Linked DNA regions of Homo sapiens. The protein of the gene in region 1 interacts with the protein of each later gene in a pairwise test. Each region holds a gene or a part of one and is shown on either strand. Other genes may lie near its edges.

The links.
Region 2: the proteins of ZNF474 (region 1) and CPNE7 interact in binary tests that used the Homo sapiens proteins (3 or more experiments, as listed by UniProt).
Region 3: the proteins of ZNF474 (region 1) and TSR2 interact in binary tests that used the Homo sapiens proteins (3 or more experiments, as listed by UniProt).
Region 4: the proteins of ZNF474 (region 1) and NOXA1 interact in binary tests that used the Homo sapiens proteins (3 or more experiments, as listed by UniProt).

What each region holds. Positions count from the first base shown.
Region 1 is NC_000005.10:122,125,536-122,132,545, reverse strand, and holds the start of ZNF474 (zinc finger protein 474), read right to left. Parts: upstream 3,001-7,010; 5' UTR 2,863-3,000; exon of another isoform or gene 2,705-2,862; intron 1-2,704.
Region 2 is NC_000016.10:89,585,219-89,593,088, reverse strand, and holds part of CPNE7 (copine-7), read right to left. Parts: intron 7,626-7,870; coding exon 7,536-7,625; intron 7,403-7,535; coding exon 7,304-7,402; intron 6,420-7,303; coding exon 6,333-6,419; intron 6,047-6,332; coding exon 5,987-6,046; intron 5,534-5,986; coding exon of another isoform or gene 5,495-5,533; exon of another isoform or gene 4,415-5,494; coding exon 4,281-4,414; intron 3,193-4,280; coding exon 3,138-3,192; intron 2,083-3,137; coding exon 2,031-2,082; intron 1,963-2,030; coding exon 1,829-1,962; intron 892-1,828; coding exon of another isoform or gene 889-891; exon of another isoform or gene 1-888. UniProt on the Homo sapiens protein: Calcium-dependent phospholipid-binding protein that may play a role in calcium-mediated intracellular processes.
Region 3 is NC_000023.11:54,435,347-54,443,403, forward strand, and holds the start of TSR2 (pre-rRNA-processing protein TSR2 homolog), read left to right. Parts: upstream 1-5,057; 5' UTR 5,058-5,075; coding exon 5,076-5,156; intron 5,157-5,343; coding exon 5,344-5,434; exon of another isoform or gene 5,435-5,545; intron 5,546-8,053; coding exon 8,054-8,057. UniProt on the Homo sapiens protein: May be involved in 20S pre-rRNA processing.
Region 4 is NC_000009.12:137,418,526-137,426,725, reverse strand, and holds the start of NOXA1 (NADPH oxidase activator 1), read right to left. Parts: upstream 3,334-8,200; 5' UTR 3,197-3,333; coding exon 3,020-3,196; intron 481-3,019; exon of another isoform or gene 479-480; coding exon 396-478; exon of another isoform or gene 1-395.

The DNA.
Region 1 (7,010 bases):
GAACTAAGTATAAAAGAAAACATAATAAATTATACTTTCTCTTAATTATAAACTTCTGCACATTAAAAAAATTAAGAAAATTAAAAGGCAAGACATAGATTGGGAAGAACTGTTTGCAAGACATATATTTAAAAATTGGATTATCTAAAAATTTAACTTTATAAAGTTAAATTCTAAAATACCCAATGGTATTGACATTTTAAATAATTACCTAAAAAAATGAAAGTATATGTCCACAAAAAGTCATTTACAAATGTTTACAGTAGCTTTACTCATAGTAGTGAAAAACTGGAAATAACATAAATATACATCAATGGATAAATGAATACAAAATTATAGCATATTCATACAATAGAATATTGTTTCACAATACAAATGAACAAACTACTAATATACACTACATGGATCCCTTTGAATAATGTGCTGCCGAAAAAGTCAAATGCTAAAGAAGTATAGGTACTTAATTATTCCATTTCTATGAATAAGCAAAGCTAATCTGTAGTGACAGAAAGTATATCAGTTATTGTTTGGTGGGTAGGTGCATGAAAGGAAAATTGACTACAAAGGTTAATGGACGTTTTCTTATATTTACGTCTTTGTTGGTTCATGGATATAATCATTTGTCAAAACTCATCAAATTTTGTACTTAAAATGGGTGCATTTTATTATATGTGAGTTATACATCAATGAAAAAGACATTAAAAAGAAAAAATGTTAAATGGGTAAAAGGTATGAATAGATAATTTTTAAAAAGATACAAATCTCCAAGAAGTTCATGAAAAGTACTCCATTAGTCATCAGGAATATGCAAATTATGACCACTGTGACATATTATTCCATATTTATTACAAATATCTACCCTATCACTCATTAGTTTCACTCCTGGGTCCGAATCCAGAATAAATAAAAACATATATCTAATAAGACTTGTGCAGGCTTCTTTTTTTTTCCCCACATATAAGTGAGATCACATAGTGTTTGTCTTTCCTTATCTGGCTTATTTCACTTAGTATAATGTCCTCAAGTTTCACCCATGTTGTTGAAAATAGCAGTATTTTCTTCTTTTTTAAGGTTCAATAATATTCTATTGTATGTTTATACCACATTTTCTTTATCCATTTATCTGTTGATAGATAATTTGTTACCACATATGGACCATTGTTAATAATGCTGCAATGAACAAGGAAGTGTAGATATCTCTTTAATATACTAATTTCATTTTCTTTGGATATATACCCAGCAGTGGGATTGCTAGATCAGATGGTAGTTCTCCTTTTAACTTTTTGAGGAACTTCCATATTGTTTTCCATAATCCATAATGGCTGTATTAAATTACAATCCCACAAACAGTGTATAAGGGTTCCCATTTCTCCACATTCTCACCAACACTTGTTATCTTTTATCTTTTTAACAGCCATTCTCACAAATGTATGGTAATATCTCCTTGTGATTTTTATTTGCATTTCCCTAATGATTAGTGATGGTGAGCATCTTCATATACCTACCTGTTGAGTGCAATAATGGTTACCATGAGTGGAGGATGAGACGAAGGGAAGATAGGCAAAGGGTACAAACCTTCAGCTATAAGATGAGTAAATGCTAGAAACCTAATGTACAGCATTGTGATTATAATTAAGAATTATTATAATTAATAATAATTGAAATGTGTTAAGATAGTAGATCTCAAGCATTCTCACCACAGCCAAAAAAAGGTAACTATGTGATATGATGAATACTTCAATTAGCTTGATTGTGGTAATCATTTCACAATGTCTACATATGTCAACACATTTCATGAGAAACCCCAAATACATGTGATTTTTATTTGTCAGTCATACCTCAATAAAGCTGGAAAAAAGTTAGACATAAAAAATAAAATTAGGAGAAAAATACTTTGTGGAAGAATCTTTATAGCTGCTTTAGCTATAAGAGGACCAAACTAGAAACAAACAAACTACCAATCAATGTAATAAACAAATGTAAAATAAGCATATAATGCAATTATACTTACCTTTAAAAAGAATTGTACTACTGACTTAAAAACCCACATTGAAATGCTTGAAAAAACATTCTGCTGAGCCAGAGACGTCAGTCTGACAATATAATATATATGGTATCATTCTATTCATATAAAGTTCATGAATGGCCAACTATTCTTTGAGGACAGAAATCAAAACAGTGGCCCCCTGTGGAGGGAAGATTGGCTGGAAAGGATGTGAGGAAACATTCCAGGGTGAAATAAATGTCCCGTGCCCTGACTGAGGTGACCATGACATGGTTGTATATACCTGTTAAACTCATTGATTTTAGAAACTTGAATTTAAGAACTCAAGATTGGTTACAATTTACTCCATGTTGATTTTATCTCAAATAATTAAAAAAAAAGCCAAGACAACTGAGTAATTATAGCCTTTAATACCCCTTTTCTTTCATGGATAATCTGGCTAATAAACATATAGTTCTGAATTAATGTTAAAACCTGACTTCATCTACTTTTCTTTGAAGAAAGTTATTTTAAAAATCATTCTTTTAAATACAATTTTATTATTTTTTAGGTATTAGAACATCTAATCCATAGTTCACTCATCATTGTCAGCATCCAAAGAAGTAAAATGACATTTATTGTTTTGTTTAGTAATACTTGAGATTTTTCACTTAAGAACTAATTATTATTATTATCGTCATTTGTATTTCTTCCCAATAGCAAGGAAATATTTACTGAATACTGGTGAGAAGCCAATGGAAGAGAACAAGAATATCTAAGAGAAGCAGTTGTTATTAGTTGAAAGGTTTAAGACCTACCAGACAACAGAGAATGCACACACCCTGCGAGAGCCTCACCTTGTGACATTTGTTCTTTACCTTTTTATTTTGCCTTTTAGCATGGCATGCTGAGCACCTCTGAGTTTTCAGGGAAGGAGCTGACAGAAACAGGAACAGAATAGCTGGGAGCTCCAAGATTCACATTCCTTGCAGGAGCTGGTGTGAGTTTTTGAGGCTGCTGAGTAACAGGAACCGCAGTCTTTGTTGCCTGGATGTATCCTGGCAACCTGTCAACAAAAGGGACGGGACTGAGTTCTCTAGTAACTGATGGGAAACAGAGCAAAGTAGGTATGGATTTCAGCTTTCTTTTAAATTGACTCCAGGAACTTTACCGATGGACTGAGCAACCAACAGGGACAGATAAATTTAAGTCACAGGCTCTTCTTGATGTAGAAACACAGCGTTTTATTTTAAAGAAGAAAAGAAAACAATATTTACTGATTATCTTATTGATCTTTTCTAGGGACTTTAAAAAATACTGTAACGGTTAATATTGAGTGTCAACTTGATTGGATTGAAGGATGCAAAGTATTGTTCCTGGGTGTGTCTGTGAGGGTGTTGCCAAAGGAGATTAACATTCCAGTCAGTGGACTGGGAAAGGCAGACCCACCCTCAATCTGGGTGGGCACCATCTAATCAGCTGCCAGTGTGGCCAGAATAAAGCAGGAAAATGTGGAAGGACTTGACTTGCTGAGTCTTCTGGTCTTCAGCTTTCTCCCATGCTGGATGCTTCCTGCCTTAGAGCATTGGACTCCAGGTCTTCAGCTTTTGGACTCTCGGACTTACACCAGTGGTTTGCCAGGGGCTCTCAGGCCTTTGGACACAGACTGAAGGCTGCACTGTCGGCTTCCCTACTTTTGAGGTTTTGGGCTTCCCTACTCCTCAGCTTGCAGATGGCCTATTGTGGAACTTTACCCTGTGATCATGTGAGTCAATACATTTTAATAAACTTCCCATCATATACACATCTATTCTATTAGTTCTGTCCCTCTAGAGAACCCTGACTAATACTAATACCATCTATATAGAAGAGCTTGGGCCAGTCGCAGTGGCTCACACCTGTAATCCCAACACTTTGGGAAGCTGAGGCGGGTGGATCACCTGAGGTCAGGAGTTCAAGACCAGCGTGGTCAACATGGTGAAACCCAGTCTGTACTAACAATACAAAAATTAGCCGGGCATGGTGGCACACACCTGTAATCCGAGCTACTTGGGAGGCTGAGGCAGGATAATCGCTTGAACTCGAGAGGTGTAGGTTGCAGTGAGCCAAGATAGCGCCGTTGCACTCCAGCCTGAGCAACAAGAGCGAAACTCCATCTCAAAAAAAAAAAAAAAAAAAAAAAAAAAGAAGAAGAAGAAGAGCTTGGTCTCCTCTAAAACAGGGAAGATGGATAGTCTCCATGGCTCTCAAAGCATGTTCTATGTTTTGGTCTAAAAGGCAAGCAACCACAAGATGTAGAAGCTATGCTTAATCTATTTTTCTAACATGTCCTAAAACATAGAAAATATTTTAAAAACTAAGGCCAGTATTTAAAAATATATCTGAAGCAGTGTTTTCAAGATTCGTATTTCAAAATACTCTGAGATATTAAGATAATTGTAGTACAATTCTACAATTAAATATTCTGCAAGCATTAAAGCTTATGAGGCAACAGTTTATTGACCTGGGAAAAAGTTTACAATATATTGCTAAATGAAAAAGAGAAGCTACAAAACAGAATAAATAGTATAATCTCATCAAATTCTTTGTGTGTGCTCATGTGCACACAAACACACAATTAACTCAAAGAATATACATCCCAGTGTTAACAGTGGCTACCTATGAGTGGTGAGATTAAGGAACATTTTTACTGAATGTTCCTTACTGGTTAGCAAAAAAAAAAAAAAAAAGAACAAAAACTTGACCTCTAATATTCCCCAGCCCTGCTCCTTGTCCCCAGATAATGTAATTGGGATATGGAGGTAATTCACAGGACTCTTAATTCTGCTGAAGTGACTCTTCAGGCCACACAGTCTAGAGATCCCAAGGGACAGTAACGTTTCACATCCTAACTTGCAATAACGCTCTAACTATTCTAGATATCTAATTTATGATATAAAATATTTCTAATTAAGATGCTTCTGAAATCATACGATACATATACAAATAATAATACATGCATACAATGACATAGAGCTGATATAATATCAGTGAGTAAATGTTGAGATGGCGGCAAGAAAACCCTGTTTTACCTGTTGCCTTTTACTGACCTGTAGGCCCCTAGTTAACACACTTTTCACTTTACACAAACTGCATGTTTTATCGGCCTTATTGTGAACTAAATGTGATCTTTCTCTAAAGAAAGTGCCCAATAAATAAACATCATCCCAAATGCACACCCAATATTCAGTCCAGTGGCTGGCTATTTGGGCCAGATGGCAGAAGAGACAGGAAGTGTTGGCCTATGACAGGACAACCTCAGGAAAACATCACGAGAGTGGATATTTCTGAGCTAAAGCAGGGCAGAGTCTCTATCCTGGCTGGAGCAACTCTTAGGAGGCCCAAGAATAACAGAGCTTGCAGGCTTTGTTAGCTGTAGCTGATGGTGCACTCACGGCCGTCTCTTCCCTGGTGCTGTGGCTGAGTTGCCAGCTGCTTTTCTGTATTCATCGAAGCTGCTTCTAAAACTGGCTGGAGTGGAGCCTTTGTTTCTTCCCAAATTCTGGACTCATTTTTAATTCATGGGTTTATAGTTTCAGTCAGAATTGAACTTCCTGGTGTTCAAATGTATTTCATCTTGGCAAAACAGGCGTTCCTGGGTGCTCTGTCTCTGTCTCCTTCTCCCTGTCTCTGTGTCTCTCTGGTCTTTCCGAGCGACCAAAACTTTTAAGCTGCTCGTATTTTTTTTTTTTTTTAAGCATGCGCAGAGGCATCTTCGACATCAAAAAGCTCTTACAACACACAACCTTTTGAAGATTTAAGTGTAAATGAAGCAGAAACATATGGATTCTATTTTCCATAAATCACATACGGTCCTAAAAAATCAAGGAGGGTATGTGTTTTGCATGATGTATTCTGTTTAGTTGAACCCAAAACATCTGAGGCATACTTGGAGGTTGATGAATCCAAAATATTTACCCATCCCTATTTATAACATTGTGGGGGAGCCCTTGATTTATGGTGACAACTAAACTGCTCACATCTGTTGAGTGGGCAACCAGCAACCAGTGTGAGCTTCAAAGATAACCGTGTTCCTTCTTCTGTTCTGACTCCAGGCATTCAAGTCAGACCCAGATCAAAGACACTGAAGCCTTTACTTGAGCTGGTCTGGTTTGCTCTTGCTTGAGCTTTTCTCACCTAAAACAATTGCCAGTTATTTCAAGTTATGTGATATCCAATCATGCTTGTGTCACTGTGGGATGATGCCAGCCTCCAGCAATAATCCAGATCTGACCCCTTGTGGGAGCAGCCCCACCACAAGGAATTCTGGATTATTTTCCCTTCATAAAACCACAGCTGTTGTGCCTGCACAAGCCCCTGACTTTTTCATTGAAGGAATGAATCACATTTTCATGGAGCAGGAGAAATGCTTCTCCTTGTTGGTATCTCTGCCTATCCTCAAGACTCTTCACTGATGCAAAGCCCAAATCTTACTTTGCAAGCTACCAATAATCCTTTGGAGTTTATTTAAACTTGGCAGAGACTACATTCTGTGAGAAAAAAAAATTGCAATGGCAGCAGCAGGGATCCAAACAGGATGTTTGTGAAGTCTGGCAAAATAGGTGCACTGAGTGCCTTGTTCTTGTCTACCTAATTATTGTTTACTTCATTCTTATCGCCTAACTCCGAAACAGCAAGTTCCAGCCACCTGACATCCGTTATCTCAAATCTTTTAACCATCCTACAAGGTAGGCATTAGTATCCTTGTTTGACAGATTAGAAAACTGAGGCTCAAGAGCATTAAGCAACTTGCCCCATTGACAAGGCTATTCCAAAGCAAATCTGGGATGGACATGTGTATCTTTCTGGTGCCCAAATGGCTTCCCTTCGCTGCCTTCTGCTAGATCTTGCTGCCATATTCCCATACCCAATAAATAATATTTTCTATGACTTGCCCAGACTGAGTAAACATTTAAAACCTAGACCTTCATGTCTCCGAAACAGGAGGCTTGAAGAAACACTGAAGAAACATTATATATAACACTGA
Region 2 (7,870 bases), on another chromosome or scaffold:
TCCCATCCCAGCACTTTGGGAGGCTGAGGCAGGCAGATCACTTGAGGTCAGGAGTTTGAGACCAGCCTGGCCAAGACAGTGAAACCCCATCTCTACAAAAATATAAAAATTAGCCGGGTATGGTGGCGGGCGCCTGTACTCCCAGCTACTCAGGAGGCTGAGTCAGGAGAATGGCGTGAACCCGGGAGGCGGAGCTTGCAGTGAGCCGAGATCACGTCACTGCACTCCAGCCTGGGTGACAAGAGTAAAACTCCATCTCAAAAAAAAAAAAAAAAAAAGAAAAGAAAAAAATGGTTACAATGGTAAATTTTAAACTGTGCATATTTTATCACAATAAAAAAAATTTGGGCTGGGCGCGGTGGCTCACTCCTGTAATCCCAGCACTTTGGGAGGCCGAGGCGGGTGGATCACAAGGTCAGGAGTTTAAGACCAGCCTGGCCAAGACTGTGAAACCCCGTCTCTACTAAAAATACAAAAAATTAGCCGGGCGTGGTGGCGGGAGCCTGTAATCCCAGCTACTCGGGAGGCTGAGGCAGGAGAATTGCTTGAACTCGGAGGGTGGAGCTTGCAGTGAGCCGAGATTGCACCACTACAGCTTGGGTGACAGAGCAGGACTCTATCTCAAAAAAAAAAAAAAAAATTGAAAAAGAAAACATACAAATACAACAACTACACAGACGTGAAGCAGGAGCGCAATGTGTGAGCAGCTGTTGGCCTCACGGGTTGCAGGACCTCAGAGCTCTTGTAACTTTTTGGTGAGTTTAAAATTATTTTGGGCCGGGCGCGGCGGCTCACACCTGTAATCCCAGCACTTTGGGAGGCCGAGGCGGGTGGATCACGAGGTCAGGAGATCGAGACCATCCTCGCTAACACGGTGAAACCCCGTCTCTACTAAAAATACAAAAAAAAAAAATTAGCCGGGCATGATGGTGGGCGCCTGTAGTCCCAGCTACTTAGGAGGCTGAGGCAGGAGAATGGCGCGAACCTGGGAGGGGGAGGTTGCAGTGAGCGGAGATTGCGCCACTACACTTCCAGCCTGGGTGACAGAGCGAGACTCCGTCTCAAAAAAAAAAAACAACAAAAAAAAGAATGCCGGGCACGGTGGCTCACGCCTGTAATCCCAGCACTTTGGGAGGCCGAGGCGGGTGGATCATGAGGTCAGGAGTTTGAGACCAGCTTGGCCAACAGGGTGAAACCCCGTCTCTACTAAAAATACAAAAATTAGCCAGAAGTGGTGGCGGGCGCCTGTAGTCCCAGCTCCTTGGGAGGCTGAGGCAGGAGAATGGCGTGAACCCCGGGAAGCAGAGGTTGCAGTGAGCTGGGATCACATCACTGCACTCCAGCCTGGGTGACAGAGTGAGACTCTGTCTCACAAAAAACAAAAGAAAAGAAAAGAAAGCAGCAGGCTGGCTGTGGCCCCAGAGACACATACAGGGCCACACGGTGGCAGAGTAGAATCCAGTGCAGTTCTCGGCACCGTATCATTTGTGCAAAGGAAAGACACATGTAAACAAAATGACGATACACACACAGCCAAACAGTAGACATGTGCGCGGCCTTGTGGTGCCCAGAGGAAGAGGAGAGGGGCAGCCTCGCTGCAGCCATGGCCGTGACCGTGTGAGGCGATGGACAGCCCTGTGCCCGAGACACCTGCACCTTTGAGGGAGACGTAGTCAACCAGCTGGGCCCCCGCCCTCCTGAGCTCTGTCCTGCCTGGGGGCCTCTGCGCTGGCTGTTCCCTCTGCCAGGTGCCTCCCTGACGTCCACGCGCTGGTGCACACACAGCCGACCCCACACCAAGCATGCACCACACCCCCCGGGCACCTACAGAGGCTTTCCCGGTGCTCTCCTCGGCCGCCGCCACGCGTGCCACCTTGGAGATGATGGGCGCCACGTTGGTGGGGCCGTAGAGCTGGACCCTGGGCAGGCAGTTCTGGTAGGCCTCCACCACGCCCTGGATGCCTGTGGGGGGCAGGGGGTGAGCCCGGCCCCCCTGCACTCCCCTCCCCAGGCCTGCCTCGAGCTCCTACCTTCACACTCATCGTCCTCAGGGTTGAAATTGATGGCAAAGTCATGGGACACCTGGGTGGGAACAAGAGGGCTCAGTCAGCTGCTCGTTGCAACACACCCCACTGGCCCCATGTCCCTCGGTCAGCTGCTCCCCCCGTCCCCAGCCCCCATGTCCCCCAGTCAGCTGCTCCCCCCGTCCCCGCCCTCATGTCCCCCGCCTACTAAAGAGGGCTCGGTCAGCTGCTCCCCCCGTCCCCGGCCCCCATGTCCCCCAGTCAGCTGCTCCCCCCGTCCCCGGCCCCCATGTCCCCCAGTCAGCTGCTCCCCCGACCTGGCCCCCATGTCCCCCACCTACTGAGAGAGGTAGGCTTGGAGTTTCTAGGGGAAGCCAAACCCATGGGTGACCATGTTCTGCAGAGTCATGAAACAGAGAGGGAGGCAGACCTCCCTGGATCCAGCAGTGCCTGAGGCTTACATTAGCCAATAAATCCCCACACACCATTTTTTCTGCTGAAGCCAGTTGAAGTTTTTTGTTGTTTTCTTTTTTCTTTTTTAAAACAGAGTCTTGCTCTACAGGCCAGGCTGGACTGCAGTGGTGCGATCTCAGCTCAGTGCAACCTCTGCCTCCCGGGTTCAAGCAATTCTCTTGCTTCAGCCTCCCGAGTAGCTGGGATTACAAGCATGTGCCACCACGCCCAGCTAATTTTTGTATTTTTGGTAGAGATGGGGTTTCACCATGATGGCCAGGCTGGTCTGGAACTCCTGACCTCAGGTAATCGGCCCGCCTCGGCCTCCCAAAGTGCTGGGATTACAGGCGTGAGCCACCACGCCTGGCCGAAGCTAGCTGAATTGTTATGTGCAATAGAGGATTCCACACTAACGTCCTTCCCTATCTCCTGAAGGAACACGGAGTTGGCCTCCAGACACCCCTCAAGCTAACAAGTCCTAGGAGGCCAAAGGCCAGCCTCTCTGGCTAGAAGGCTGGGGTTCCCGCTTTGCACCCCAATCCCATCCTACAGTCTCCGGTTCCCAGCAGGCAGCCAGGGCTCCCTGGGCCAGGCCGTCCTCTGCCTGGGAGGGCACGAGAAGGGCACAGCTCTGAGGTCTCAGGTTCTGGGCTCTCCTACCTCATACTTGGGAGGGATCCGGGCTCCAAACCCCAAAGCGGAAAACCTCTTGTCACTGGAAGAGAGGCAGGAGGTCACCAGGAGGCCCTGACCTCTTGTGGCTGCAACAGGGGCCACTTCTAGGGAGACATGACTGGCGCCCAAAAGACTGGGGGTGCCCAGGCCTGGTACCACGGCAGTAAGCACCTGCCAGAGGTGGGGAACCGAGGCTCAGGGCAGCAGAGGCACAGGCCTGTGTGCAAGGGGACACGGTCCTGCCGCCCGCGAGCCTGCCTCCCAACTCCACGTTTGTGTACATGCTGTCCCCCTGCAGACGCCTCCCCGGGGGCTCTCAGACCACGGGAGGGGTCCTGTGGGGCCAAGGAACCCACTGTGGCCCTCACCAACCCAGAAAGAGAGGTCTGTAGGGTAGGGAGCTCAGGGCATCCTCTCCCAAGCCCCAGGCCAGGGGTCTGTGTTGTGGTAAGAAGCTCAGAGCACAGGGTTTTGTGCCGGGCCCTCCCTGGTAAAGCATACGCGGGTGAGCCCCAAGCCTCTGTGACTTCGGTTTGCTATTCTGGCAAAGCGGGACACAGACGTCCCCCCAGGACCATGTGCAGAGTCTATGCGGCAGCCTCCAGTAGGGCTACCCAGCCCTTCCTCGCAGAGTCTCTTTTTTTTGAGACGGAGTCTTGCTCTGTCACCCAGGCTTGAGTACAAAGGTGTGATCTTGACTCACTGTAACCTCCGCCTCCCGGGTTCCAGTGATTCTCCTGCCTCAGCCTCCTGAGTAGCTGGGATTACAGGCATCTGCCACCACGCCCAGCTAATTTTTGTATTTTCAGTAGAGATGGGGTTTCACCATGTTGGCCAGGCTGGTCTCAAACTCCTGACCTCAGGTGATCCACCCGCCTCGGCCTCCCAAAATGCTGGGATTACAGGCATGAGCTACCGCGCCCGGCCCCTCACAGTCTGACAAACTCACAGTGCCCACCTCATGGTGCCCCGAGGCCTGACCTGGAGCCCAGGGGGGTGAGGGAAAACCGGCCGGGTGCACCTGTCATAGCTGACCTGGAGACCAGGGGGGTGAGGGGGAAGACGGCCAGGCGCACCTGTCATAGCTGACCTGGAGACCAGGGGGTGAGGGGAAGGTGGTGGGCGCACCTGTCATAGTCCTGGCAGATCTCGCCCACGGACACCAGTGCCTTCAGGTACTCGTTCGGCTGGTAGGGGTTGATGTAGTGCAGGGAGCAGCTGTTCCGCGGGTCTCCATTGGAGGCGGTGAAGTCAATGGCCACCTGCAGTGGGCCGGGAGCCAGGAGCTGTGCTGGGCCGGGGCTCCCCGAACCCGCTCCTGACAGGTAGAGAAACCACGCCCAGAGTGGCCAGGACTCAGGGTCAGGGGTCGCGTAGGTGGGTAGGGCTGGGGGGCTGCTGTTGGGGCTGACCCACCTGCTACACAGGGCCAGGAGAGGTCTCCTCAAAACCTGCCAGCCCCTAGGCTCCCTGGATCTCCGGGAGGACACCCCACCAGGATCACCCTGGCCTTGTGGGGGCCCCGCCCATCCTTCTTAGTGGCCGCCCAACCCCTCTACCACCCTCCCCGGCAGGGCCTAAGTGGACCAAGCCTGGTCTGGGTCCCCCCACGTTTCCCACTTGCTGGCTTCTCCCAAAGCCATTCTGGGGCTCGTTCAACAAAACACGAACCAGCGCATCTGCAAATAACACGCGGGTGACACGGGGGCCGTGTATCTGTGGGTGACACGCGGGTGACACGGGGGCCGTGTATCTGTGGGTGACACGCGGGTGACACGGGGGCCGTGTATCTGTGGGTGACACGCGGGTGACACGGGGGCCGTGTATCTGTGGGTGACACGGGGGCCGTGTATCTGTGGGTAACACGGGGGGCCGTGTATCTGTGGGTGACACGCGGGTGACACGGGGGGCCGTGTATCTGTGGGTAACACGGGGGGCCGTGTATCTGTGGGTGACACGGGGGCCGTGTATCTGTGGGTAACACGGGGGGCCGTGTATCTGTGGGTGACACGCGGGTGACACGGGGGCCGTGTATCTGTGGGTGACACGCGGGTGACACGGGGGGCCGTGTATCTGTGGGTAACACGGGGGCCGTGTATCTGTGGGTGACACGCGGGTGACACGGGGGGCCGTGTATCTGTGGGTGACACGGGGGCCGTGTTTCTGTGGGTGACACGCGGGTGACACGGGGGCCGTGTATCTGTGGGTGACACGGGGGTGCTATGGGGGTGACACGGGGTGTGCGTATCTATGGGTGACGCGGGGTCTGCGGGTGACATGGGGGTGACACGGGGTCTGTGCCGGGCTCCTTGGATGACACGTAGAGACTGTGGCTGGTTCACTCAAACGCTCACTCCAGTTTCTCCTCGTTCACGTTTTGTCTGTTGTTAAATGTGTTTGTGGAAGGTAAGCCCTGGTGATGTCACCTCCCAAGGCGGGCTTGGGGCTGCTTCCTGAACCCCAAGCCCGTTTCCTCGCCTGCGCAAAAGGGAGGACCCCCAGGAGCCGCGCATGGAGACATCGGCTCACGGGGAACCGCCAGTGCCCTTTCACCCGCCAGGCTGGGACCCCTCGGGAGCGGGGCGGGGGCGGGGGCGGGGGCGGGGCCACGGACTGAGGGGGCGGGGATGGGCGGGGCCACAGACTGAGGGGGCGGGGATGGGCGGGGCCACAGACTGAGGGGGCGGGAGGGGCGGGGCCACGGACTGAGGGGGCGGGGATGGGCGGGGCCACAGACTGAGGGGGCGGGGAGGGGCGGGGCCACGGACTGAGGGGGCGGGGCGGGGCGGGGCCACGGACTGAGGGGGCGGCATGGGGCGGGGCCATGGACTCACGGTGAAGTGGATCTGGCAGCCGCCCATGATATAGTCCAGGAAGGAGTACACCCTGTGGAACTTCCGGCCGGCGGAGTCAGCGTCCACCCCCGCCAGGGACACTGAGGCCAGTGCCAGCTGGGATCCAGGCCTGCCTCCCGCAGGCAGCCCAGTCCCTCTGGGGTGCCACCCTCCTCTCCTCTCCCCCATCCTCTCTCCCCAACCTCGCCCTTCCCCGTCTCTCAGCCCCTCCCCAGACGTGCTGGGGCCCACCAGGCCTCTGGTTGAGGGTCCATCCAACAATCAGAGGGAGGCAGCGGAAGCCCCTCTTGTGGGTGGGGAGGCTTCGGGCACAGCCACCTCTCACCTTGAGGTCAGCCAGGACGACCACTCCTGAGTTCTTATAACTGCGTCTCTTCTGCTTGTATTTGGGGTTCACACAGTCCCACTGGGCCTGGGGCAGGAACAAGCAGAGGCCCCCCAGAGTGGTGGCTCTGAACACCTACCAGGGAGACCCTACCCAAGACCATCCCCAATAGCGACGGCAGAGGGCCCCGTGGTGGGGAGGGGAGGGGAGGGCACTGCTGCAGGGCAGCAGGAAGGGGCAGAGTGGGTCATACGGGAATGAAGAGGGATGGGAGTTGCATCCCCCACCCGGCATGGCCCTGTCATTAAGCCCAAGGACACTGAGGCCCAGGGACGGGGGAGGAAGCAGGGCCCAGGGTGGCCTCCCCACTGCACCCTCACCCGGCTGCTGTGGGCTGGGCAGACACAGGGGAGGGCACCCCTTGGCCCCACCTCCCACCACCCCTGTGCCCAGACCCAGATGGTGCCTGAAATGTCCAGCTGAACCTGATGGGGGCCACCCCTGCTATGACCCCTCAGGAGCCAGCACCAGGGTCCACCATCCTCAGCCTTCTCTGGTTATAACAAGTCATTGTCACCACTCCCCACAACCCCATCAGGACAGTGGGACAGGGTTTCACAGCCTCTGTGGCAGGGCCAACACAGGCGTAGCCCAGGTGTGCCCCCGACTCACCTGCCCCTCCCCAGAGGCCCCCCTCACCTGCCCCTCCCTGAATGCCCCCTCCCCCTGCTAACTGCCCCTCCCTGGAGGCCCCCCTCACCTGAACCTCCCCAAAGGCCCCCCCAACCTGCTCCTCCCCAGAGGTGCCCACCCACATGCCCCTCCACGGAGGCCCCTACCCCACCCCCCACCTCCTCACCTGACACTTCCTGGAGGTACCCCCCCAGTCCTGCTCACCTACCCCTCCCCGAAGGCCCCCCTCCACCCCCACCTGACCCTCCCTGGAGGACCCCCTACCCCGTCCTGCTCACCTGCCCCTCCTCAAAGGCCTTCTGCATCTCCTCGAAGGTGGTAGAGAATTCTCCGATGAAGTCGTGCTTTCCTCGAGAGTCGTAATCCCAGACCAGGCACTGGGGAGCCCAGTCCTCCTCAGCACTGCTGTCTGGGGGCCCCAGGACCCTCCCACCCGAGCCCAGGTGTCTCCATCGCAGCCCACATCCAGGCCACCCCCTCACTGCCCCCTTGGTCCATCCCGTCCCCCACCTTTAGAGGCCTTGTCTCCTCGCAGCTGCAGAGGGAACTCAGAGAGACTTTGAAGGCCTCCCACACCGGGTTCAGGTTGTTCTTCACCACCTGTGGGCCGGGAGGGGCTGGCTCAGGGGAGGCCCAGGGCCCTGGGATCCTTGGGGGGGATAGAGACCTGGGTGGAAGAGCAGCTGTGAGGCGGGCACAGCTGGCCCTGCCCCTGCATCACCCCAGACAGCGCCGGGGCCCTGAGCTGGGGCTGGCACCCACTCCCTGCACGAAGCCATGTGAGGACCCGGGAGACACATTTCCGAGCCCTGTGCCTCCACCTTCGTAACTTCTGCCACCTCTGA
Region 3 (8,057 bases), on another chromosome or scaffold:
GCTACGGAGGAGGCTATGCCCCTGAGGTTCTCTCTCAGTCTGGAACTGCTCTTATTATCATCACACACCATGTTGCTTCCTGCCTCTGTGTATTTGCACACATTTTTCCCCTGCACAGAAGGCTCTTTCCTCCTTTCAGTAACACCTTCCACCCCCATACACACACACTCCCCCATCACCCAGCAAAATTCTACTCAAACTTTAAGAATCAGCTCACGTGTCATCTCCTCCGAGAGGCCTGCCACAGCCCCCAGGGCTGGGTCAGGGACCCTCTGCTGAACTCCCATGAGTCCCTGTGCTCCTTTCTCCCTGGGCATTGCACAGAGATAGATTTATCGTAGAACAAATCAATCTTAAGCATCAGGGCCCCACACTTGCACAGGCCACTTCCAGGTCTCTGGTTATTGAGCCTGGTCTATTTGAAGAATGTTTAAGATTTGTCGCTGTGCCAAGAGAAGTTAAAATAACCTGAAATCTTACAGCTCACATGTAAAAGAAACTAGAAATTTTCCCAAGTTTGACAAAAATCTTAAAATGTACATTACTAATAATGAGTTGTGAAATTGAAACTTTTCTAAAATACTAATAATAAAAAATTTTACTCAACTGAATTGAAATCAATTGAATTCTTTGTGTTCTCTCTAGAAAATATAAAATACTTGTCATATGAAGAGTTCTATAAACTCTTTGATATCAAAAAATGTAGAAAAATTAGTAGAGAGGTGAGTCATGTAATTAATAAGAATATTTTATTTTGGCAGGGCGTGGTGGCTCATGCCTGTAATCCCAGCACTTTGGGATGCTGAGGCAGGCGGCTCACCTGAGGTCAGGAGTTTGAGACCAGCCTGGCCAACATGGTGAAACCTTGCATCTACAAAACAAAAACAAAACAACAAAGTAATATTTTATTTTTCTGGGTTAGAAGATGTTTGTGACATTTGTCAGTTTTTAAAAATTTGTAATTTGTAAATTAGATTTCTAATTTTAAGGAAATACTTTCATCAATAAATCAACAAATAAGTAAAGTGTACAATTCAATGGCTTTTAGTATAGTTTCTTCTGATTTGCTCCTTGGCTTTCTCCTTAGCTTTCTCACTGTGTGTTCACATAGTTGTCCCTGTGTGTACACCTCTCTGGTGTCCCTCTTTGCCTGTGTCCTCATCTCCTCTTATTATTATATTTTGTTGTTTTTTGTTTTTGAGACAGGGCTTGTTCTGTCACTCATGCTGGAGTGCAGTGGTACAATCATGGCTCACGGCAGCCTCAACCTCCTGGACTCAAGTGATCCTCCCTCCTCAGTCTCCTGAGTAGCTGGGACTACAGCCATCACACTCAGCTAATTAAAAAAAAAATTTTTTTGTAGAGATGGGGGGTCTTGCTTTGTTGCCCAGGATGGTCTCGAACTCCTGGCCTCAAGTGATCTGAGCCATTGCACCGAGTTCTAATCTCCCCTTCTTTATAAGGACATCAGTCATAACGGATTAGGGCCCACCCATGCAACCTCATTTTATCTTAATTACCTTTTTAAAGGCTCTATCTCCCAATACAGTCACATTCTGAGGTACTGGGGGTTAGGGTTTCTACATATGAATTTGGGGGGTGGTGGATACAATTTAGCTCATAACAGCAACCATTACCTCGTCTAATTTTTAGAACATTTTCGACACCCCCAAAAGTAGCCCTGAAGCCATTTAGAAGTCACACTCTATTCTTTCCCCATCCAAGCCCTGGGCAACCATTCATGTATTTTCTGTCTCTATAGATTTACCTATTCTGTATATTTCATATAAATGGTATCATACAATATGTGGTCTTTTTTGACTGGTCGGTAATTATACGTCCTCTTTCGTTCCTGATTTCAGTAATTTGAGTCTTCTTTCTTTTATTTCTTCCTCAGTCTAGCTAAGGGTTTGTAAATTTTGTTGATCTTTTCAAATAACTGACTTGGCCAGTTGCATTTGCTCACACCTGTAATCCCAGCATTTTGAGAGGCGAGGCAGGTGGATCGCTTGAAACCAGGAGTTCAAGACCAGCCTGGGCAACAAAGTGAGACACCCCCTCCCAACACACACACACACACACACACACACACACACACACACACACACAACCACACACACACACACACACACACACTAGCCAGGCATGGTGGCCTATTCCTGTAGTCCCAGCTAATCAGGAGGCAGAGGCAGGAGGATCCTTTGAGCCCAGGAGTTTGAGGCTGCAGTGAGCAATGTTTGTGCCACTGCATTCCAGCCTGGGCAACAAAAAAAGACTTCATCTCTGAAAAAAAAATAACCGCCCAGGTCCGGTGGCTCACGCCTGTAATCCAAACACTTGGGAAGGCTGAGGTGGGCAGCTCACTTGAGGTCAGGAGTTCAAGACCAGCCTGGCCAACATGGTGAAACCCTGTCTCTACTAAAAATACAAAAATTAACGGGGCATGGTGGCATATGCCTGTAATCCCAGCTACTCTGGAGGCTGAGGCAGGAGACTCCTTTGAACCTGGGAGGCAGAGGTTGTAGTGAGCTGAGATTGCACCACTGCACTTCAGCCTGGGTGACAGCACCAGACTCCATCTCAAAACAAACAAACAAACAAACAAAAAACAACAACTGACTTTTGGCTTCACTGTTTTTTCTTTTCTCTATTGTTTTTCAATTCTCTATTTCATTTATTTCTGTTCTATTATTTATTATTTCCTTTCTTATGCTTGCCTTGGGATTACTTTGCTCTTCTTTTTCTGGTTTTGTGAAGTGGAAGTGTAGGTTATTAATTTGATATCATTCTTTCATTTTTTATTTTTTTGAGACAGGGTCTTGCTCTGTCCCCCATGCTGGAGTGCAGTGGCACAATCACGGCTCACTGCAGCCTTGAGCTCCCAGGCTCAAGCAATCCTCCCACCTCAGCCTCCTGAGTGGCTGGTACTACACGCATATGCCACTATGCCCATCTAATTTTGTTTGTTCGTTTGTTTGTTTGAGACAGAGTCTCACTGTGTCGCCCAGGCTGGAGTGCAGTGGAGTGATCTCAGCTCACTGCAACCTCTGCCTACCGGGTTCAAGCGATTCTCGTGCTTCAGCCTCCCAAGTAGCTGGGATTACAGGTGTGTGTCACCATGCCTGGCTAACTTTTGCATTTTTAGTAGAGACAGGGTTTGTTCATATTGACCATGCTGGTCTCAAACTCCTGACCTCAGGTGATCTGCCCACCCAAAGTGCGGGAATTATAGGTGTGAGCCACCATGCCTGGCCTAGTTTTCAAATTTATTTATTTATTTAGTTTGAGACAGAGTCTCACTCTGTTTCCCAGGCTGGAGTGCAATGGCACCATCTCGGCTCACTGTAACCTCCGCCTCCCGGGTTCAAGCCATTCTCCTGCCTCAGCCTCCCAAGTAGCTGGGATTACAGGTGCTTGCCACCAGACCTGGCTAATTTTTGTATTTTTAGTAGAGACGGGGTTTCACCATCTTGGCCAGGCTGGTCTCGAACTCCTGACCTCAAGTGATCTGCCTGCCTTGGCCTCCCAAAGTGCTGTGATTACAAGCGTGAGCCACCACACCTGGCCTAATTTTTAAAATTGTTTTTAGAGATGGGGTCTCACTATGTTGCCCAGGCTGGTCTTGAACTCCTGAGCTCAAGCCATCCTCCCGCATCAACCTCCCAAAGTGCTATGATTACAGGCATGAGCCACCATGTCCGGCTCTTCTTTTTAGATATGCATGTTTACAGCTAAAGATTTCCCTCTAAGTTTTGCTTTAGCTGCATCTCATGCATTTTTTTATGTTTTTGTTTTCATTCATTTAAAAGTGTTTTCTAATTTGCTTTGTGATTTTTTTCTTTGACCCATTTATTGCTTAGGAGTGTGTTAATTTCCATATATTTGTGAATTTTGTAAGTTTCTTTTTACTGATTTTTAACTTCTTTCCATTGTGGTCAGACAACATACTTTGTATGTTCAATCCTGTTAAATCTATGGAGGCCTACTGTATGGCCTAGTGTATGATCTGTTCTGGAGAATGTTCTTGTGTACTTCAGAAAAACATGTACAGTTATCCCTGGGTATCCGTGGGAGACTGGTTCCACGACCTCCGGAGGATACCAAAATTCATAGATGCTCAAGTCCCTGATATAAAATGGCATAGTATTTGCGTATAACCTATGAATATTCTACTGTATACTTTAAATCATTTCCAGATGTGACTCACGCCTATAATCCCAGCAATTTGGGAGGCTGAGGCAAGTGGATTAAACCCAGGAGTTCGAGACCAGCCTGGGCAACATGGCGAAACCCTGTCTCTACTAAAAACACAAAAATTAGCTGGGAGTGGTGGTGGGCACCTGTAATCTCAGGTACTCGGGAGGCTGAGGCACGAGAATTGCTTGAAACCAGGAGACGGAGGTTGCAGTCAGCCGAGATGGCGCCACTGCACTCCAGCCTGGGCCACAGAGTGACACTCGGTCTCAAAAAAATAGATAAATAAATAATTTCCAGGTTACTTATAATGCCTAATAAAGTGTAAATGCTATGTATATAGCTGTTATACTGTACTGTTTAGGAGAATAATGTCAAGAAAAAAAGTATACACATGTTCAATGCAGATGCAATTTTTTCCTGAATATTTTCCATCTGAGGTTAGTTGAATTCACGGACGTGGACTGCCCCCCATAGGGAGAGCTGATTGTATTTTACTGTTGTTGGTTGCAGTATTCTATACAGATGTTAGGATGCTTTTTTTAAATGCAGATTTTTAAGGCTATACTCACTGAGTCCTCTGCCCCAGGGCCTGGAATCTGTATCTGTAATAAGTTCCCCACATATTTCCTCCGCAGTACCCACGGATCCGGAAACCATGGCCCCACACGTCCTTCAGGTCTGGTGTCCTTTGATTTAAGTGAGTAACTCTGGTGGTGTCATCGATCGCTCTGACAGATTTTTCTTTTGCTCTAGTCTTGCTGCCAGGTCTGCGGAAAAGAGAATCCTGTGTTCTCAGGCTCGGCTTGCGTCTCGTTCTGCCTGGGCCGAGCTACAGAGGGATTGGGCCGCCGGGACGTCACGTGGACTGGGGCCGGATAATGGCGGGCGCTGCAGAAGATGCGCGAGCTCTTTTCCGGGCTGGGGTCTGCGCGGCCCTGGAGGCCTGGCCGGCCTTGCAGGTCAGTGGGGCCAGGGCCAGGGCAAGGTCAAGGTTAGGGCCCGGGGCAGAACAGGAGTTGGTTGGGCTAGGTGCCTGAGGCTTGGCTAGGCGGCATAAGAGGAGTTGGCTGGGCGGCGTAAGCGGCCTCCAGGCTACTCCAGGTCTGCTCCCAAGCTGACTTGGTGGGCTTGGACCTGTGTTTACAGATCGCTGTGGAGAATGGCTTCGGGGGTGTGCACAGCCAGGAGAAGGCCAAGTGGCTGGGGGGTGCAGTGGAGGATTACTTCATGCGCAATGGTGAGTGAATGTGAGGCGCCGCGACCCGCCTGTGTGGGGGTGTGGAGAGGAGGAGCCCCATCCCGCAGAGCCTGCATTTCCTCTCGAGCAGTTGTGGATTGGTACCTAAAGGTGAGGTGGAATGAATTCAGCTTTTAGAATCAGAATCCTGGATTCCAGTGCTTTACGGGCTGTACCACTGACTCGTGGGATTACTCTGGACAAGGCAGTTTACCTCCCTGAGACTCAGTTTCCTAGTTTCTAAAATGCGTATAAAAGTATCCACCAGAGCGCTGTACAGTAGAAATATTATGCTAGTCACATATAATTTAAAATTTTTTAGTAGCCACTTTAATAAAGCAAAAAGCAGATGAAATCAATGTTAGTAAACTCGGTGTGTATGAAATATTTCAACATGTAGTCAGTATAAAACATTGAGATATTTTACATTTTTTAGTATTAAGTTTTCAAAATCTGGTATTTTACAGTTTTAGCACATTTCGATTTGGCCTAGCCATATTTCAAGTGCTCAGTAACCACCTGTGGCTGTTTGGACAGCAAAGATCTACACTGTAGGCTCGTCTTGAGGGATATACAAGAACAAGAGGCCCAGTAGAGGGCCTGTTGCATAGTATGGTTTTTAAAAAAATCTTCATTCAATTTCTAGCTTTGGAGATGACATTAGGCAGAGTCATCTCTCTCAAGAAAGTATACTATCCATTGAGGATCCACACACGTAAATAGTTACAACATTGATAGATTTTCTGATAAAGAGGAGCTCAGGGTGCATGGGGTAACAGGATGGGGAGACAGCTTCTTAGTGGAGGTGGTGAATTGGGCTGGGTCTTAGTGAGAAGGAGTTAACTAGGTGGGGGAAGCAGAGAGAGCAACACTCAAGTTCTGTGGCATGAGGGTATAATGTGTTATATTTGGAAAGTAGCAGGGAGCTCAGTATTGGAGTATGGGCGTGTGTGCGTGGGGGGTGGAGGAGTGGTAGAGAATGAAGCTGGGGTGTGGGAAGCCCCCTTGAAAAGCATAAGACATGGAAGCCCTTATGTGCCTTTGATTTTATCATTTAGGCCAGTGTTTGCCAAAATTCATGCTAACTAGTTCTGTTAGATGTTCAGTGAAGAAGCTTCTCCAGTTACCTTATGTAAGAAAAACTCTTGTTCTGCTCCCACTGAAAAGTCTTAACACTCATGAACATATTAAAGGCTTGGGTAAGAATAAGAACCACTAAAAAACCTGTTTGCTTTTGTTTCTCATTAGCTTTCTATGGATAGTGTCCCTTAAGACCCAGCAGAACAGATATTTCTCAAAGGCAAACTGTGAAACACTGCAGTGGCTGGTAAAAATTCGTGGGCAGGTTCTAGGGTGAGAAATAGGATGGGATTTGCTGGCTAGAAAGTTCAGGAAATAATCAGTATGAAGCATAACCTGGAGAGGGAAAGACTGATGAGAACGCTGTTTTTGTCTAGAAACTGATGAGGCCTGAAGTAGGACAGTGGCAACAGGCATGGAAAAGAAGGGGTGGAATAGGGCCTTGGAGATTGGTTGGCTGTAGACAGGGAGGGAAAAAGAGGCAAGTTCCTGGTTTGAGTTGATGGGTGGATTAGGTGTCTTTTCTCGGAGTAGAGGAACCCTGGAGGATGCGAAGCAGGTTTAAAGAGTAAGGTGATGAGTCTGGCTTTAGATATGGAAGATCTGCGGCATCTGTGAAACGTCCAGGCACAGAGTAGTCTCAGTTGGAGATAAATTCGGGGGATATTAAGTTTGAGTGGTAGGGAAAGCCAAGAGTGTGGATGAGCTCTCCCAGAGAAAGCACATAGAGGGGAGAGGGCTAGGAGCTTTGTGGGAGACTTTCTTGAGTTACTGTCTAATTCAGAAAAAGTAGAGCATAGGCCCATAGGTAACTGAAGCCCAGAGAGGAAGGTGGCTCAGTCAGAGTCACACAGTAGGATGTCAGTGTCAAGGCTATGATGATTTCATCATTGGAATTACTATGTCCATTTCTTCTTAACTATCCCATTGGTCTGTGGCTTCTTTTATCAGTGGAACCACAGTTGTGAAGGTTCTCTTCACTTCAAAAACTTCAGCTTTTGCATGATAGAAATTAACATGGATCATGGATCTTCACTGTGCTAGGCATTGTGTTGGATGGTTCCTCATAACAGACCTTTGAGGAGGCCACCATTAGCCCCACTTTACAGATGAGAAAACTGAGGCTCAGAAAGAAGTAGCTTGCTCAAGGTCTCATAGAGGGGAGGCTAGTTAGAATAGTCCAGATGAAAGAGGGTGAGTGTAGGGCTGGGAGTTGTGGAAAGAGGCCTTGGTAGGATGGAAGAGATTGGAAATGAGGTATTAATATTTAGTGGTTCTTTAAAAAATTATGTTAAAACCTGGAATGCAGAACACTTTAGCAGATAAAAGGCAGGATGGAAGAGATTGGAAATGAGGTATTTTTAGTGGTTCTTAAAAAATTGTTAAAACCTGGAATGCAGAACACTTTAGCAGATAAAAGGCTCACTGTGCCTTTACCCACCCAGTTGCAGATCCACCAAGTAGATATTGAAGAGCAGTGGGCAGGGGTGATGAAGTTGGCTGGTCTTTGACCCAAGGGCCCTGTCCTTTTCTACTTAGCTGA
Region 4 (8,200 bases), on another chromosome or scaffold:
TTTGATATTTCAGGATTGCGAGGCTCTCGGGACTGTGATCCACTTCCCCACAGAGCCTGCCCTCCTGGGATGGGGCCTGTGAGTGTCTAGCAGAGAGGCCGAGGCATGGCCTGGTCTGCAGTCCCGATGGTCTCCTTTCCCTCATTCCTCCTTTAGGAAGGGACATGGTGCAGAGAGCCCAGGTAAGCAGTGAGGACCCCACGACCTGTGTCCAAGGGTGGCGCTCAGCAGAGGCGAGGGCCACAGTCTCAGGTTTCCCTGGAGCCAGGAACCATGGAGGAGGGGGTGGGCAAGAGGAGGGAGTGGATGGAGAGGGAGGAGGAGGAGGTGCAGGAGTGGACTCTGCAGGGAGACAAAGGGCCGTCAGAGAAGGAACAAGGCACCCCTGTACTCACCTTGCCAGCTGGAAGTTGGCCACTCCTCGCTGGAAGAAGCCAACCGCCATGCAGGTGTCCTTGGTCACGGCTTGGTCAAATGCCTGGGGACAAAAATGCCCACGGGATGCCAAGGTCTGTAACCTGGTCACGCAGCATCACAGATACAGCGTGATGGGTGACAGGGCCACGGAATTCCGTCAGCCCCTGGGGACCCCCCACAGCCCCTCCTGCTCCTGTCCAGGAACCTTCGGAGCCCCTGCCTGGGCAGGGCTGTCGCCACTCAGGTTGCCACAGCCCACCCAACCCCAACCCGTCCAAGGCGCAGAGCCCACTGAGGTGCTGCTAAAACCAATGTGTTTACCATGAGCACAAGGACAGAGGCCAGAAAAAAGTGTTCCAGTATGTTAATAATAGTTACCTCTGGGGAGTGGGGTTATGCAAGATTTTTGTCTTTTAAAAATCCTTTTTTTTTTTTTTGAGACGGGGTCTCGCTCTGTCACCCAGGCTGGAGTGCAGTGGCTCGATCTTGGCTCACTGCTGCCTCCGCCTCTGGGTTCAAGACATTCTCAAACTCCTGACCTCAGGCAACCTTGGCTGTCACATACTGGAGACGAGATAACGCAGTCCAGATCCCAGAGTCAGCAGCTAAAGAACTGCATTACAGGCCGGGCATGTTAGCTCACGCCTGTAATCCTAGCATGTTGGGAAGCTGAGGTGGGCGGATCACCTGAGGTCAGGAGTTTGAGACCAGCCTGGCCAACATGGTGAAACCCCATCTCTACTAAAAATACAAAAATTAGCTGGGCATGGCGGCACGCGCCTGTAGTCCCAGCTACTCGGGAGGTTGAGGCAGGAGAATCGCTTGAACCCGGGAGGTAGAGGTTGCAGTGAGCCAAGATCGCACCACTGCACTCCAGCCTGCAAGACAGAGCGAGATTCCGTCTCAAAAAATAAATAAAATAAAAATCCTTTTTTGATAGTTCATGCAAAATGACACCCTAGAAATCTATTAGAATCAGAAAGAACAACACACGTCTTCATGTGTTTATCTGTGTGTAAAGCACAGCTCTTCCTTAAACCAGACTCAGGAGGACACAGAAGGTTCTGAACAGGGACCGTGGCCATCAGTTAAATGTGTGTGACAGGAAGGGTGCTACGGTCTCTTTCACAAATCTGGCTGAGTGGGGGCTTGTCGTTGAACCAAGTTCACACAGGTGTGAAGTGTGGCGGCTGAGCACAGGCACGCAGCCCTGATGTGGGGTGGCGGCTCAGGGCCAGCAGAACCCACCTGTCTGCCCCAAACGTCACGCAAGGCTCCTAACAAGAGACAGCAGTTCCAGCGACACCCTCTGCACCCTGGGCTGCCCCTCACGTGATCGGCTTTATGAATCATAGCTGTTCCATCTGCTTTCCTAAGTTCCCATATTCCTAACATGCATATGCTGTGGGTTAGTCGTATGACTTTCACTGCGTCCCCTCTCTGTAGTGAAACCAGGCACAAGAGCACAAGTGACTGGGTTAGCCCCGGACATAGGATTTGTTGCTGAACCACCTGGTGTCTAAAGATTACATTCCCTTTCTTGGATAACATTTTAAAATGAAATCATTGTGGGCCGGACAAGGTGGCTCACATGTGTAATCCCACCACTATGGGTGGCCGAGGAGGGTGGATCACCTGAGGTCAGGAGTTCAAGACCAGCCTGACCAACATGGTGAAACCCGTTTCTACTAAAAATACTAAATTAGCCAGGCGTGGTAGTGGGCGCCTGTACTCCCAGCAACTAGGGAGGCTGAGGCAGGAGAATTGCTTGAACCCGGGAGGCAGAGGTTGCAGTGAGCCAAGATTGGGCCACGGCACTCCATTCAGCCTGGGTGACAGAACGAGACTCCATCTTTGAAACAAACAAAAAAATGAAATCATTATGGAGGTGATTGTAAATTTGTACGCAGCTTTAAGACACAAGAGAGGGGGGTCTCATGCGCTTTGCCCAGTCTCCTCCAAGGGGGATATTTTGCCAGTCAGGGGCGTGGAGACCCTCCCACAGCGCGCAGTTCCCTCTCCTTTAAATCACTGCTGTCACCGAGCCTTCAGTAACCGTGGGCACCTGCCTGCTTCTGCGGGGTGCTTGGGACTGAGCGGGGGTGGGCAGCGCTGGCGTTTGGGATGCGCAGGAACAGGCGGCCCCGGAACGCGAGGGGGCACGAGAAGGGCACCGGGCTCCGTGCAGGGCCTCGGCCGCTGCACCCTGGCACCCTGGACTCCTGGCTGTTTCGGGGAGTGGGCTGGGGGAGGGCTGAGGGCTCTGAGGAGGAGACTGACCCGGTCTCCCGGCCATGACCACAGGCGCAACGCTTTCCCCTTAGGGCAGGGCGGTCCCTCGGGCCTGACCCAGCCCAGCAGCTTCCCCCTTCCCGGTGTGAGTCACCCTCGGGCCCCGGCCTCTCCCGGTGACCGCCGCGCCCCCCAGCGCGGCCTCGCTTAGCTCAGGTGCGGCCCCCCTGCTCGGCTCCCACCTGCCGGGGCGTTCGCTGGGTCGGGGGCGGCAGGGCGACCCCGTGACGGTCGGGGAGGGGCGCTGGGCCCTCCCCAGGGGCTCGAGGCGGAGGCGTCGCCCGCACCGGCCTCCCCACGCCCCGCTCACCCGCAGCGCGGCCTCGGGGTCCCCGGCCAGCAGGTGCACGCAGCCCGCGTTGAAGCACAGCCTGGCGGGCGGCGCCGGGACGCCCGAGAAGAGGTGCAAGGCGCGGGCCCAGTCCCCACGATCCACAGCCTGCGCGCCCAGGTGCCAGGCGCGCACCAGGTCCCCCAGAGAGGCCATGGCGGCCGGTGGCGGCGCTCGAGGAGGGGCCAGGATCCCGCGGAGGGGCCGGGGCCGGGGCCAGGCGGCGGCGCGGGGCTGCGGGGTCTCCGAGGCGGGCAGAGGTGCGGGCGCCAAGCGCCAGGTGCAACCCCGCTGCCCCGCGGCGCCCCCTGGCGGCAGGCGCCCGCCCCTCCCCGGTAAGGCCACGCCCCCGCCAGAAACGGCTACGCCCACTCCAGACCCTCAGGCCTCGCCCACCTCCCATTCGGCCCCCGCCCCGGCCGGACTTCCGCCGGGAGCTTTGTGCGCCCGGCTTCCTCGCCCCGCCCGCGCTGGCCTTGGTGCGCCGGATAAAGCCCTCCGGGCCAGCGGCTGCGGTCGGGCCAAGGTTCCGCGCCGGGCGTGGACGGTGTGGGGCGGTCCCGGCCCCGCAGGTGAGCGACCCCGGGCCGCGCGGGCCAGGTGGGCGGTCTGGGCGCCGGGGGCAGAGCGGGGCCGGGCCGGGTGCGCGTCCTGAGGTGAGGGCCGTAGCTGGGAGTGAGCCGGGGGCGGGCCGCCGGCTCTCCCGGGGTGGGGAAACTGAGGCCCCGATGGGGCGGGGAAGGTGCGTTCTCCCGCAGGGCCCCGCTCCGGAGGCCGCCGAGCAGCCGGACGCCGCGGGGAGCTGAGCCGACCCCGGCGACCCCGCCGCCCTGTCCCGCAGGGCCTGCCCTCCTCCGCGCCTTCCGAGCACGGACATCACAGGACCCGGAGGCCCTTCGCTCCCTCGCCGAGGAGGAGGCGCTCCCGGTGGGACGCGCGCGCGCCCGCCCTGCCCTCCCCGGGAGAAGGGACGGGCGCCTCCCTGCAGGGGCCCTGGCTTCCTGTCCACCGGCGCTGAGTCCTGTATTAGTTGTCAACCTAAAATAATTAAAAGGGTCAGAATGTGGTGCCCGGTGGGTTTATTCAGGCACAGAGGTCGAGGGCGGCCTGGGTCACCAGGTGCAACGGAGAACAAAACAGAGGCTCAGGTTTTTAAAGAAAACAGAGCCCATCGGAGAGCAGGTGGTTTCGAACGTTGCCCAGGAGCTCACTGGCTTGTAGAAATGGCATTGGTTCGCGATTGACCACGGCTTGGTGTCATCAGTGGATAGTTACTTGGCTCGAGGGGTAGTGAGGGGCTGCGGTTTCATTTGAAATGCTTTCTGGCACTTAACATCAAGCTTTCTGGGCCCACAGTTTAAAAGGGCTTTACATTCCTCAGATAAATGATTTTTTTCTTTCTCATTTGCCCCCCTTTTGATCAAAATCTTTCTTCTTGAAAGCATTGATTATCAAAATCTGAGGGTCAGAGTGTCCCCTCTTGCTGGGAAGGCTCATTCCCACATAGTCCTGTCCCATGCCAAGCAGGGAAGGAGGAGACATTTCAGGGAGTTTTTTTTTTTTTTTTTTTTTTAAGAACACCACAAACTGAATTGGAATGGCATTACAGGGTGGCAAACATGAGGTCTCAGTGAAGTCATTAATTTATACAACTGCTGTCACCTGTTGAATCATCTCTAGTTTTTAGAAACACCATTAATTTTAATTTTCTCAGAAGTAACACATAGGACTATAACCAATTTGTATGCCAGGATGAAAAAAACAAACCTGTTCCATTAGGGAGACAACTAAAAACATGAAGAAACTAAAATCCATGTTCTTCTTTCTTTTTATTTATTTGTTTACTTAGAAATGGGGTCTTGCTCTGTCACCCATGCTGGAGTGCAGAGGCACGATTCCCACTCATCGCAGCCTTGAACTCTTGGGCTTAAATGATCCTCTTGTCTTAGCCTCCTGAGTACCTGGGAATACAGGTGTTTGCCACCAGGACCGGCTAATTTTAAATTTTTTTGGTAGAGACTAGGTCTTGACACCTTGCCCAGGCTAGTCTCGAACTCCTGAGCCCAAGTGATCCTCTCATCTGGGCCTCCCAAAGTGCTGGGGTTATAGGTGTGAACCTCTGCCCAGCCAGGTTCTTCTTTGAGACTTGTAGCCAGAAGATTGTTCAGGATTTAGTCCAGATTGTAGGAAAATAAAAAATACAATGATCAGGGCTAGAATCCAGTAACAGGTATGCTGTAGTTTTTCTCTGAAACATAATTTTTCTCTACTTCCCCATTTCTACCAAAGATAAATCTTGGTAAGACCAATTTACTTGTAAAATAAATTTTAGGATTATATTTGGCCTGATTATTTGCCTAAAGTACAACAGTGGTGATTGGCCATATAGGCTCCTTTCTAAACTGGCTGGAACTTTGCCATAAGGAATTTCAGACTTTTTTTCCCCACATCAGACAGGTAATGTGCTGGCGTCATAACAGCGTTTGAAGGAGACAGACCCTACACATGAGGCAATCATCATGCTTATGAACTACAAGAGGGTCAGAATAGACCTTTAAAAGCCACTTGAGGGCTGGGCATGGTGGCTCATGCCTGTAATCCCAGCACTTTGGGAGGCCAAGGTGGGAGGATTCATTGAGCCCAGGAGTTTGAGACCAACCTGGGCAACATAGCGAGGTCCCTGTCTCCACAAAAAATTTAAAAATTACCTGGGCATAGTGGTGCTCACCTGTAGTCCCAGCTACTCAGGAGGCTGAAATGGGAGGATCGCTTGAGTCCAGGAGATTGAGGCTGCAGTGAGCTATGATCGCACCACTGCACTCCAGCCTGGGTGACAGAGCGAGACCCTGTCTCTAAACAAAACAAACACTTCCCATGTCTAGGAAGCCAAGCCAGTGGCTCCCCATCACAGTGTATGTATAATACCTGTATGAATTTGGGGGGGGGGGTGAATGTCTGTCCTCCAGGTCCCAAACTATCTTGAAGTTCCTGGATCTGTCGGAAAGTGACATTCTTTCCTTACCTCAAGGCCAAGAACCTTTTAAGGGAACTATGTAAACAGGGCACCAGTCCAGTCATCCCAAGGGGCTTTTTATTGGCTCTATAAAGCGAACCTCGATTCCTCAAAGCAGTCTCGTCATATCCAAAAATACGTCATCCCAGTCCAAGCCTTGGTAGAATAACCAGGGTCTCCAATTGTGTCCTGTTACAAGGACAACAGATTCTTACTGAACTCATGCAAAGAACTACATTGCCATAAAATAAGAATACTCATGAATCGCTTCCAGATTTTTGAGAAATCAGGTAGAGAAAAAGACAAATATTTCAGTTTTGCTCACAAAAGTATATGTCACTCAATTGCTATAGCTATAAATAGCTCAAAAAGAAAAAGGTTTTCTGACTCTGGAAAACAAAATATAAAAAGAGTCAGCAAGGTTTCGATAACAACAAAAAATCATAAAAAGCATTTCAGGCCTCTATCAGTTCAGTTCTATGTAATTTGCTGGGGTTTTTTTTGTTTTTTTTTTAGGCGGAGTCTCCCTCTGTCGCCCAGGCTGGAGTGCAGTGGTACAATCTCGGCTCACTGCCAGCTCCGCCTCCCGGGTTCACGCCATTCACCAGCCTCAGCCTCCCGAGTAGCTGGGACTACAGGCACCTGCCACCATGCCCGGCTAATTTTTTTGTATTTTTAGTAGAGATGGGGTTTCACCGTATTAGCCAGGATGGTCTCGATCTCCTGACCTCGTGATCCGCCCGCCTTGGCCTCCCAAAGTGCTGGGATTACAGGCATGAGCCACCGCGCCCGGCCGCTTTTTTCTGTATGATGTTGGGTTAACAATCCTCATGAATGCATCAGCTTTTAAATAAGAGTCCTGGAAGTTTTTATCTGGTCTACTGGTGTGATCTCCCAGGTTATCGGAAGTCTGTATACTTGTCAATGTCCTTTCCATGAATTTCCTTGAAGAAAATGCAAATTTTGGACTGTACCTTATTTTATTTTATTTATTTATTTATTTTGAGATGGAGTCTCGCTCTGTTGCCCAGGCTGGAGTGTAGTGGTGCGATCTTGGCTCACTGCAACCTCCGCCTCCCAGGTTCAAGCGATTCTCCTGTCTCAGCCTCCCAAGTAACTGGGATTACAGGCATGAGCCACCATGCCCAGCTAATTTTGTATTTTTAGTAGAAACGGGGTTTTACCACATTGGCCTGGCTGGTTTCGAACTCCTGACCTCAAGTGATCCACCCGCCTCAGCCTCCCGAAGTGTTGGGATTACAGGCATGAGCCACCGTGCCCGGCCTTAAACTGCATTTTGAGAAGAATCAAAGTAAAACAGTAATTTTCTGCAGATGACAAAAGACTTAGAGTAGCCATGGGTGAAGACGCGATTGGCAGGGAATTTGGTTACTTCTGAGGTTAAAACAGTTTAACATATAATCGTAATCACGACTGATAACATATACCAAGACATGTCAGAATTTTTAGGAATCTCATACAATTTTGGAACATATGTTAATAATACATTTATACCAATATAACTCCAACAGCATTCCACATTTGACAATGCTTCCTGTATGATTTTAACATACCACATAAGCCTCGTACATCTCCCTTGGACTTCTCGGGGTTCCTATTTGTTATATCCAAGTTAGTTCAGGTGAAAAAAACCCTTAATGTTAGGACTTGAAATTTGGTTTTGGGAAGTCAAATATCAGAGGCTTAAAACAATCTCAAAATAGGACCACAGGTCACTGTAAAATAAGCCATTCATTTAATCAAATTGGTAATTCAGAGATTTCCCAAACCAAAAACCTTTACTATGACAGAGAGGAGACTTAGTTTCCCAAGCAATCAATAGACCTACTAAAGACAGCGTGAGGCAAACAGAATGTCTCTCCCTCTTTCCCCTTTTTTTTTTTCTGTTTACTCAGAAGATAAAAATATTTTACAATCTCTTATTACTACACGAAATGTTGTTCAAAAGAAAAACAAACTCTGCTTTTCTTATACATCTCACGTACAGAATTGTTTCTCTTATATTTAGTAGTTTCAGTTACATATATTAATTACAGTGTTAACTTCGTGACCCTAATTTTCCGTTAAAAACTCAGCGAGTAATTTTGAACTGTATGTGTAGATGGAAACCATTTCATCATGTTTTA